2 linked regions of the Homo sapiens genome follow. The protein of the gene in region 2 purifies or fractionates together with the protein of the main gene of each other region. This does not show direct contact. Each region holds a gene or a part of one and is shown on either strand. Other genes may lie near its edges. The genes, in order: PPP3CC and C16orf74.

Evidence for each region.
Region 1: the proteins of C16orf74 (region 2) and PPP3CC purify together in Homo sapiens (affinity purification with mass spectrometry; one large-scale study listed by BioGRID and IntAct). This does not show direct contact.

Annotation. Positions count from the first base shown.
Region 1 is NC_000008.11:22,520,827-22,524,848, forward strand, and holds part of PPP3CC (serine/threonine-protein phosphatase 2B catalytic subunit gamma isoform), read left to right. Parts: intron 1-1,664; coding exon 1,665-1,742; intron 1,743-1,828; coding exon 1,829-1,923; intron 1,924-2,816; exon of another isoform or gene 2,817-2,930; intron 2,931-4,022. UniProt on the Homo sapiens protein: Calcium-dependent, calmodulin-stimulated protein phosphatase which plays an essential role in the transduction of intracellular Ca(2+)-mediated signals. Dephosphorylates and activates transcription factor NFATC1.
Region 2 is NC_000016.10:85,748,297-85,752,446, forward strand, and holds the start of C16orf74 (uncharacterized protein C16orf74), read right to left. Parts: upstream 2,801-4,150; 5' UTR 2,630-2,800; intron 1-2,629.

The sequences.
Region 1 (4,022 bases), on a different chromosome or scaffold from region 2:
TTTATTAGTTTCCTTTGGTGGTGTCATTTTTGCCTGGTTCTTTATAATTCATATAGCCTTGCAATGGAGTCTATGCATTTGAAGGAGCAGGGGCCTTCCAGTTTTTATGGACTCGTTCGCCAAGTAAATACCTTCTCCTATTGAGTCCCTGGGTTGATGGGATTGCCTGTGGTATTGTGATTAAGCAGGGCTGAAGCTAGATTATGGGGCTACATTAGGGTTCACAGTCAGTGGGCGTACCACTAGGGGCATGGACAAGTATGTCCCATGGATGGGGAGAGCTGTCTCTGGAACTCAATAGGGTGGGACCCAAGCTGGGTCCCAGGCTGGTTTGGGTTTATGTTTGGGTCCAATCAGCAGCCCTTTTACCAGAGGAATGGACAGGCATGATTTCCACAAGGCCCCTGTTAAGGCAGGACTTCCTCTTGGCCACAGTAGAGCAGGGCTGGAGCCAGGTCAGAGTGCTGCTTTGAGTCTGCAGTTGGGTCTGGTTGGTGGATCTGTTACTAGGGGCATCAACAGACATGGTTCCTTCCCAGGATGGATGAGGCTGGTGGTAGGACTGCAGACAAGTGGGACTGGAGCCGGGTTTACAAGGGACAGGCTGATTCTGGGTCTGTAGCTGAAAGGTCAGTGGGCCTGCCTTCTCCAAGCAGCCCTTCCTAGTCTTGGGCTCCACCAAGGTTTCATAACCACCTACCTCAATCCTAAGGTTCTTACAATGGCACTTATGGCCATGGATGGCTTCCAAACTATTGTTTCTGTAGGAGGACCAGGGCTGGGGACATTCTCTTTTGCTATCTTGCTTACGTCACCTACAACCTACTTTAAAAGTAAATTTGTTCTAATGAGCATAATGAGAAACAAAGATTTTAAAAATAAACTAAATAATTAATGCCTAAGTAATTCCAGGTTAATTTTGTATACTCCAGTTCTTCCTATCAGGTATTTGTCATTCAGAGAGGTAATAGTATGAAAAGAATATTTTAGGAGTATATGAGAATATTGTATCTTTTTTTAGAATATGGTTGGCTAAAATATTTACATCTGCTCCTAAAATATTCCTGCATAAGCTTGCAGTGAGCCGAGATTGCACCACTGCACTCCAGCCTGGGCGACAGAGCAAGACTCCGTCTCAAAAAAAAAAACAAACCTATATATATACATATATATGTATATATGTATTCCTGCATAATATTATCTTGGTGTTTATATTACCTGTGAAGCTGTAAGTATATTCTTTTATTTCTGTAACAATTTGACAATTGAAGAAAAGTATGTGTTGAATTTTTAGCATCTACTACACACACACGCACACACACACACACACACACACTACTGTTGTACTTTGTAATATCAAGACACTGATAAAAGTTTTGGTGTTGTATTGTTATGGATTAAGACAAAAAAATTAAAAGATGAGATGGAGGAGCTCTTTCTATTGTAGGATTATCTATTGTTTTCATGTTTGATCTGTAGTGAAGTATATTAGTGAAATAGAGAAACAGAATGATGAGTACTAAGCTATTCATAAAATTTCAGTAGTGTGTAATACTTGTAGTTTTGAAACAAAATCAGCTAATATCACCTTGACTTTTCCCCATCTTCCTATTAAAAAAAATTGTTTTAATTCTGGATTTATGTTTTCTAATTTTCTTTTCCAGTTACCCTGCAGTTTGTGAATTTTTGCAGAACAATAATTTACTATCAATTATCAGAGCCCATGAAGCCCAAGATGCTGGGTAAGTTACATTAAAATTGTACCAAATATCGCTGCAGAGTCTTTGCATTTAATATGCAGACAGATGGACTTTCATCTCTTTTTCAGGTATCGAATGTACAGGAAGAGCCAAGCCACAGGCTTTCCATCACTTATTACAATTTTCTCTGCCCCCAATTACCTAGATGTCTATAACAATAAAGGTAAAGGAATCCAGCAATATTTGAGTTTGAATTTATGAGTAAACGTGAGCTCTGGTTTAATTGTATGTACGTATGTGTGTTTGTGTCATTTTAAAACATAAATTTTAAATAAGAAAAAAAGGGGTCTTAGTTGAAACAAAGGCCAAGAAATTTAGAATTTATGCTGCTGCTTGGTCTTTATCTCCTAAGGATTACTGGCTTCTTTGTGAGTATAAATAATGATCATAATAGGTCAGATTGATACTACAGAATCAAAGTATAAGAAGAATAAATTGCTTCAGGCTCATGCCAGAATAGTTAGCATAAATTATTGGTTTTGGTGAATTTAATGTGTTTATAACAGTATCTCAAAGTCACCATTGGTATTTTAATCTTTGTGAATTATTAAACTATTTTTGTTTTTCTTGAGATATGGTCTAGGTAGAGTGACCTAGTGTACAAAGTCAAAAAAAAACCTTCATTTTTAGTTTAAACCCTGCCAGAAACGAATACTGTGACTTTGAGTGAGTCACATTATCTTTCTAATCTTCAGTTTCCCATATGAAAAAAGAAGAATGGATATATACATGCCTTTTGTTCCAGAAATTTTACTTCTAAGACTTTATCCTGTTAAAGTCTTTTTTTTAATTTAAAACTTTTATGATTAATAGTTTATAAGTTTTCTATCGAGGCAGTGGTCCTACTAAAAACTTCATATTTCTGTAACTATTTTGTTGTTTATAAAGTATGACTATAAATTAATAGGACTTTGAAAATAAACATGCCAGAACAAACATATCCAAATGAGTATTGTCCCTTCAAAGTAGTTACCTTGGGAGGCTACACACCTATTCCAACAATGCTGTCCTTGTTCAAAAACATTTTTGGAACTCCTCTTTTGGCATTGCCTTCAGAGTCTGCGACACATTCTTTTGATTATCCTCAATGATGGGAAATCTTCGTCCTTTGAGGGTGGATTTGATTTTTGGACAGCCAAAAGTCATTCGGAGTCAAGACTGATAAATAAGGTGAGTGATCAAGCTAGATGATACCATTTGGGGTCAGAAACAAGGTATGATTATAAGGTAATGAGACTGGTTTTTCTCGTGTTGCTGATACAGTGGCTCTGGAGGCACTTCCAAAAGAGGAGTTCCAAAAACGTTTTGAGTAATGGCAGCATCTCTGGATTAATTATATGGTAAGGCAACAAGTTGTGCTGAAAAGAACACAAAGCAAGGAGTCAGTCTAGTCCTGCTTCACTTTTAAGTGTGTCACATTTAACAAGATACTTCTCTGAGCCTCATCTTTAAAATATCTGTCATATGGGGTTGTTGAAGATAAGTTGGAATAAGGAAAATGGATATTAAAGTGTTGTTCAAAATATAAATTACTATAATAATACAGATTTTACTGTTATTGTACCTGATGTGATAATATCAAAGGACCACACTCATCTGATAAAAAGGTCTGGTGTGTTTGTAGCTGGTGGTTTCTTAAGTCTCATTACTTTATAGTTATACCTTGTATATGCAGTTGGGGAGATAAGTTTCAAAGATGGCCAAAATATAATTAATATTTACTCTATTTAAAAGTAAACCATGGAATGGCACATCTCATTTAAATCCGATTTGGGTCAGTCATTTTAGTGTGTCCTCCAGTGACTTGTCTATTTTAAAAAGCATGTCTTTAACTTAAGTTCTGTCCTAGTCTTATGTTTTCATTTAACTTAGCATTCTTCTCTGAGCCTTATCTGTCCTACAATGCTCTGCTTCTCCCTAAGTTCATTTGTTATTTCCTTTTTCCTGATATTTCCAGTATATTAGCAACTTAGGTTTTATTCTTATTTATTCTCTTATCAATGGTGTGGACTGTTTGTGTTGTTAAACGTCTTCAAGGACTCTTGTGGCCCTAGATCTCCTATTTGTAATGAAGGTGTTTCTTTCTCACTTTCTTTTTTAACTTCATCAAAAAGAGTATCTATTGATTGCTCAATGGATTTATCAGTGTGCCAAGCTGAAACACGCCACCTAAGTCAGCAGGCACTATACAGCTCACTCACTGCTAGCTTGTTTTTTGTCTCAATCTAACCTGGTTTTGTTCTTGATTATTTCTTTAGCAAA
Region 2 (4,150 bases):
GGTTGAGAGAGTTATTATCTGGGCTGGGTGCAGTGGCTCACGCCTGTAATTCCAGCAATTTGGGAGGCTGAGGTGAGTGGATCACGAGGTCAGGAGTTTGAGGCCAGCCTGACCAACAGGGCGAAACCCCATCTCTACTAAAAATACAAAAATTAGCCGGGCATGGTGGCACGCACCTGTAATCCCAGCTACTCAGGATGCTGAGGCAGGAGAATCACTTGAGCCTGGGAGGCGGAGGTTGCAGTGAGCCGAGATCACGCCACTGCACTCCAGCCTGGGTGACAGAGCAAGACTGTCTCAAGAAAAAACAACAAAAAAACCCAAAAGAGTTATTATCTAAAGACCTGGAATCCATAGAAAGGAATGTCTGGGTTACGATAAGGAGTTTGGCTTGAGAGAGAACAGATTGTACATGTTTCTTATCAGACTTAAAGGGACTGTCCTATTAGTCTGAAGGTCTGCACTGATGTTAATGCTGGTCTGCGGGGTCTCAATTTCAAAAGGCAAGAGAGTATAATGAGGCATGTCTGACCCCACTTCTCATCATGGCCTGAACTAGCTTTGCAGGTTAACTCTGGAATGCCCTTAGCCAAGGGGAGTGGTCCATTCAGATGATTGGGAGGCTTTGATTTTTTTTTTTTTTTTTTTTTTATTTTATTTTTTTTTAGAGAAAGGAGTCTCACTATGTTGCTCAGGTTGGTCTCAAACTCCTGGCCTCAGGTGATGCTCGTGCCTCACCCTCCCAAAGCACTGGGATCACAGGTGTGAGCCACTGTGCCTGGGCCCCATCATCACTTACTAATCTTTTTAATGATGGGGGATTATACTTAGCAGGCCCAGAGGCCTAGCCTGGCTTCCACTGCAGGTAAGAGCAATTCAGTACCACGGCTCAGGGTTCCAGGCCTGGCCTTGCCATTTTCCAGCCATGTAACCTTGTGTCAGTGACTTTGCCTTTACAAGCTTCTGTTTCCTCATTTTTATTTTTTAATTTATTATTATTTTTTTAAGAGACAGGGTCTCCCTCTGTTGCCCAGGCTGGAATGCAGTGGCGTGATCATAGCTCACTGTAGCCTCAACTTCTTGGGCTCAAGGAAACCTCCCGTCTCAGCCTCCTAAGTAGCTGGGACTACAGGTATGCACCACACCCAGCTCATTAAAAAATTTTTAGTAGCTGGGGGGACTCACTGTGTTGCCCAGGCTGGTCTCGAACTCCTGGCCTCAAGCACTCCTCCTGCTTTGGCATCCCAAAGTATTGCAGCCACAGGCGTGAGCCACTGTGCCTGGCCCTGTTTCCTCATCTTTAAAATGGGGCTGACAGTATTTGGTTGGAGAGTTGGTCAGGGGATTAAAACAGAAAACGCAGGGTCTGGTGCATGAGGAGTGCTCCGTAAGCATGAACTATCAGTGCGCTCTTCTTCAGTGTCCACTGACGGCACGCTCCCATTTCAAGTCTCCAGAGGTGACCTGCACCTTGGGCTGGGAAAATACACTCTACGTGGGTCTGGGGTGCACCCCACCGGCATGGGAAGGCGCTTCCAGGGAGACGAGATTAGGTGGTGAGCTTTCAGCCTCCTTGGGGCTGGTGAGGGATTAAGTGTTTCCATAAATACACGGCCTCCTCCCATCCACAGGACCGGGTCCCCAGCGGTGGGGGCGCAGAACCCAAGGAGGGCGTGGCCTGCACAGGTGAGGGTGCTTTTTGGAGTTAACCCAGCCCAGGACAGGGGCCTCCCCACAGCGTTGGATGGGTGGGGTCTAGGCAGGAAACGCCAGAGCCTGTGACTCAGGGTATCCCTCTCAGAGCCTCAGTTTCCTAACCTGTACATTGAGGCGTTCGTTCCCCGAGAACCGCACTACCTCACAAGTGCCTTTGCCTCGCAGCCTTCCCTTCCTCCCTCTTCCTCCGGGCTCCAAAGCCTGTCGAGCCTGCACAGATTTTCCCTTGATTCCATCTGGGCCCCGCAGCCGGAGGCGGTCTGAGAGAAGTCCCAGCCGCCCTCAGACCCCGCCCTCCGCCTATCCCTGGGGGGAGCTGCGGGTGCCCCTTTTTACTGAGACCTCCCCTAGTTCCGCTCGAGCGCAGCCAGCCAGGAGAAGGAGCGCGTGCGTCCACACGGGTCGCCCTTCGCGGTTGCAAACCTGCTTTGATGCCCTGGGAGCGCAGGGGGGCCCCTAAGTGAGGCAGTTCATAAATAATAGATTTGGAAATACTCGATAGAGTGGAAATGGTTCCTCGGGAGGCCTCCTGCCCCCGCCCCCCGCCGGGCTGCCTTCCAGCTCTCAGGAATGGCGTTCTGGTCCATTCCCAAGGAACTCGTGACGGCGCGGGGTGGCCTGTGGTGAGTGGGGGGCCAGAGGCTTCCGCGCGGGGTCACACCCCCACCGCCGTGCAAGTTGCAGCGCGGCCAGAGCCGGGCCAAGTTTCCCAAAGCCCGTGTCTCCGCAGCAAAGTCTGCAAGAAGTTGGGGGGACGCCCGGGCCCGCGTGGGTCTCCCACCGACCCCCGGGCCGCGCCCCTGCAGCGGCTAGAGCTTGCGAGGCGTGGACGCCGCCCGGCCGGGGCCGCGTTGCTCGGGGAAGGCGGGCGTCCCGGGGAAGGGGCGGCGGGCACGAGGCGCGGGGCACTCACCGCTTCCTTCTTGGTGGGCTCACTGCGGAGCCGCGCCCGAGGCGCGCGAGGCCCGCCCGGGCGCTGGTGGTGGTGGCGGCGGCGGTCGGGCTCGGGGGGCCGCGGCGACGAGCCTGCAAGACAGAGCAGCGGGGGTCATGGCCCGGCCGGCGCTCGGGCAGCCGCGCGCCTCCCGCGGTCCCGCCCCGCTCCTAGAGGGCGGCGCTGACGGCAGCCGCCGGGCCGCGGGCGCCAGGATTGCACGGGCCAGGCGCGGGGCGGAGCGGGCCCGCCCGTCGCCTCCCTGGGGAGCGTGCCAGGACCCGCCCGGCGCCCTCGGCGGCGGTCCCGACCCCTCGCTGCTTGCCTGTTTCCTCCCTCCAGGCCCCGGGCAGTCCCGGGGAAAGTTTGGGCCGCGGCCCGTAGGGCTCCCCACCGTGCGCCCCTCTCCGGGGCTGGGTGCCGGGCTCCCTGAGGCCCTGCACCCCAGCCCTGGGTGTTGAAAAAGGGCACCAGGGTTCCTCCCATACTGGGGGGCCCGGGTTCAGTGGACCTCGCCGCCCGGAAGCGAAGAGGAGAGGCGAGAACAGCCCCCCCGCCCCATCTCGCCGTCTGCAGCCGCCCTCCCCTTGTGCAGGACCCCAGGGACTGGTAGGCAGTGCCCCTTCCCTGTGGCTGCAGCTGTGGGGGTTCCCTTTTGCTCTCCACGCAAGCCTTTGCACCCCACTTCGGGGGCGAACCCTGGGTTGCAGCCTACAAGGAGGTCAGGGCTTGCCTCCTGGCCCCCTGGGCAGCTTCAGGTGTTTGGTGATGACCTTGATGAGCATCAGGGAGAGGAATCCCCCACCTCCCCGCGGTGTGGACACAGAGCTCCCCGCGGTGTGGACACAGAGGTCTTTTGGCCAGATGAGCTTCTTAGGAGGCACACTCCCTCCGTCAGCCCTACCTGTGTGGAGGCCTCTGCAGACACCTGCCCAGTGGGGCAGGAGGAACAGAAAGATGCCTGCCCTGTGCTTTCTATGTCATTGTCACAAGCCTGTGGTACCCTGTCCACCCTACAAGCCCAACGTCTCCACACCCCCTGCCCTATATATTTCTGGAGGCTTAGAAGGGGAAACTGAGTCACAGAGCAGGAAAGTGACATTCCTTTAGTGAATGTGGCAAAGAGTTGCAGGAAATGGAGTCATCTTCCTAGCCGTGTGCTGCTGCTTGAGTCATTCCTAAAAATGGGGCGATCTTTAGGTTCCCCTGACCTTATAGAGTCCAGACTGACAGGCAGGAAATGTATCATGTCCCCCACTCCCCCGCCTCTAACAAAGAGAAGGGGCAGGCCTGGGGCAGGACGTTCCTTCCATTCGTCCCCACCCTCCGGAGGCAGGATGGGACCTGCCGCTGGCCGGTGCTGGGGTGGTGGGCGTGCCCATCAAAGCTGCTGCCCCAGCTGCTGGGCTGGGGGAGGCCTGTGCAGGTGGCTCCCTGCTGAGGGCACATCCCTGGGGAGGGGCTAGAAAGCCAGAAAGAGCTCAGAGGCTTCAGGGTAGG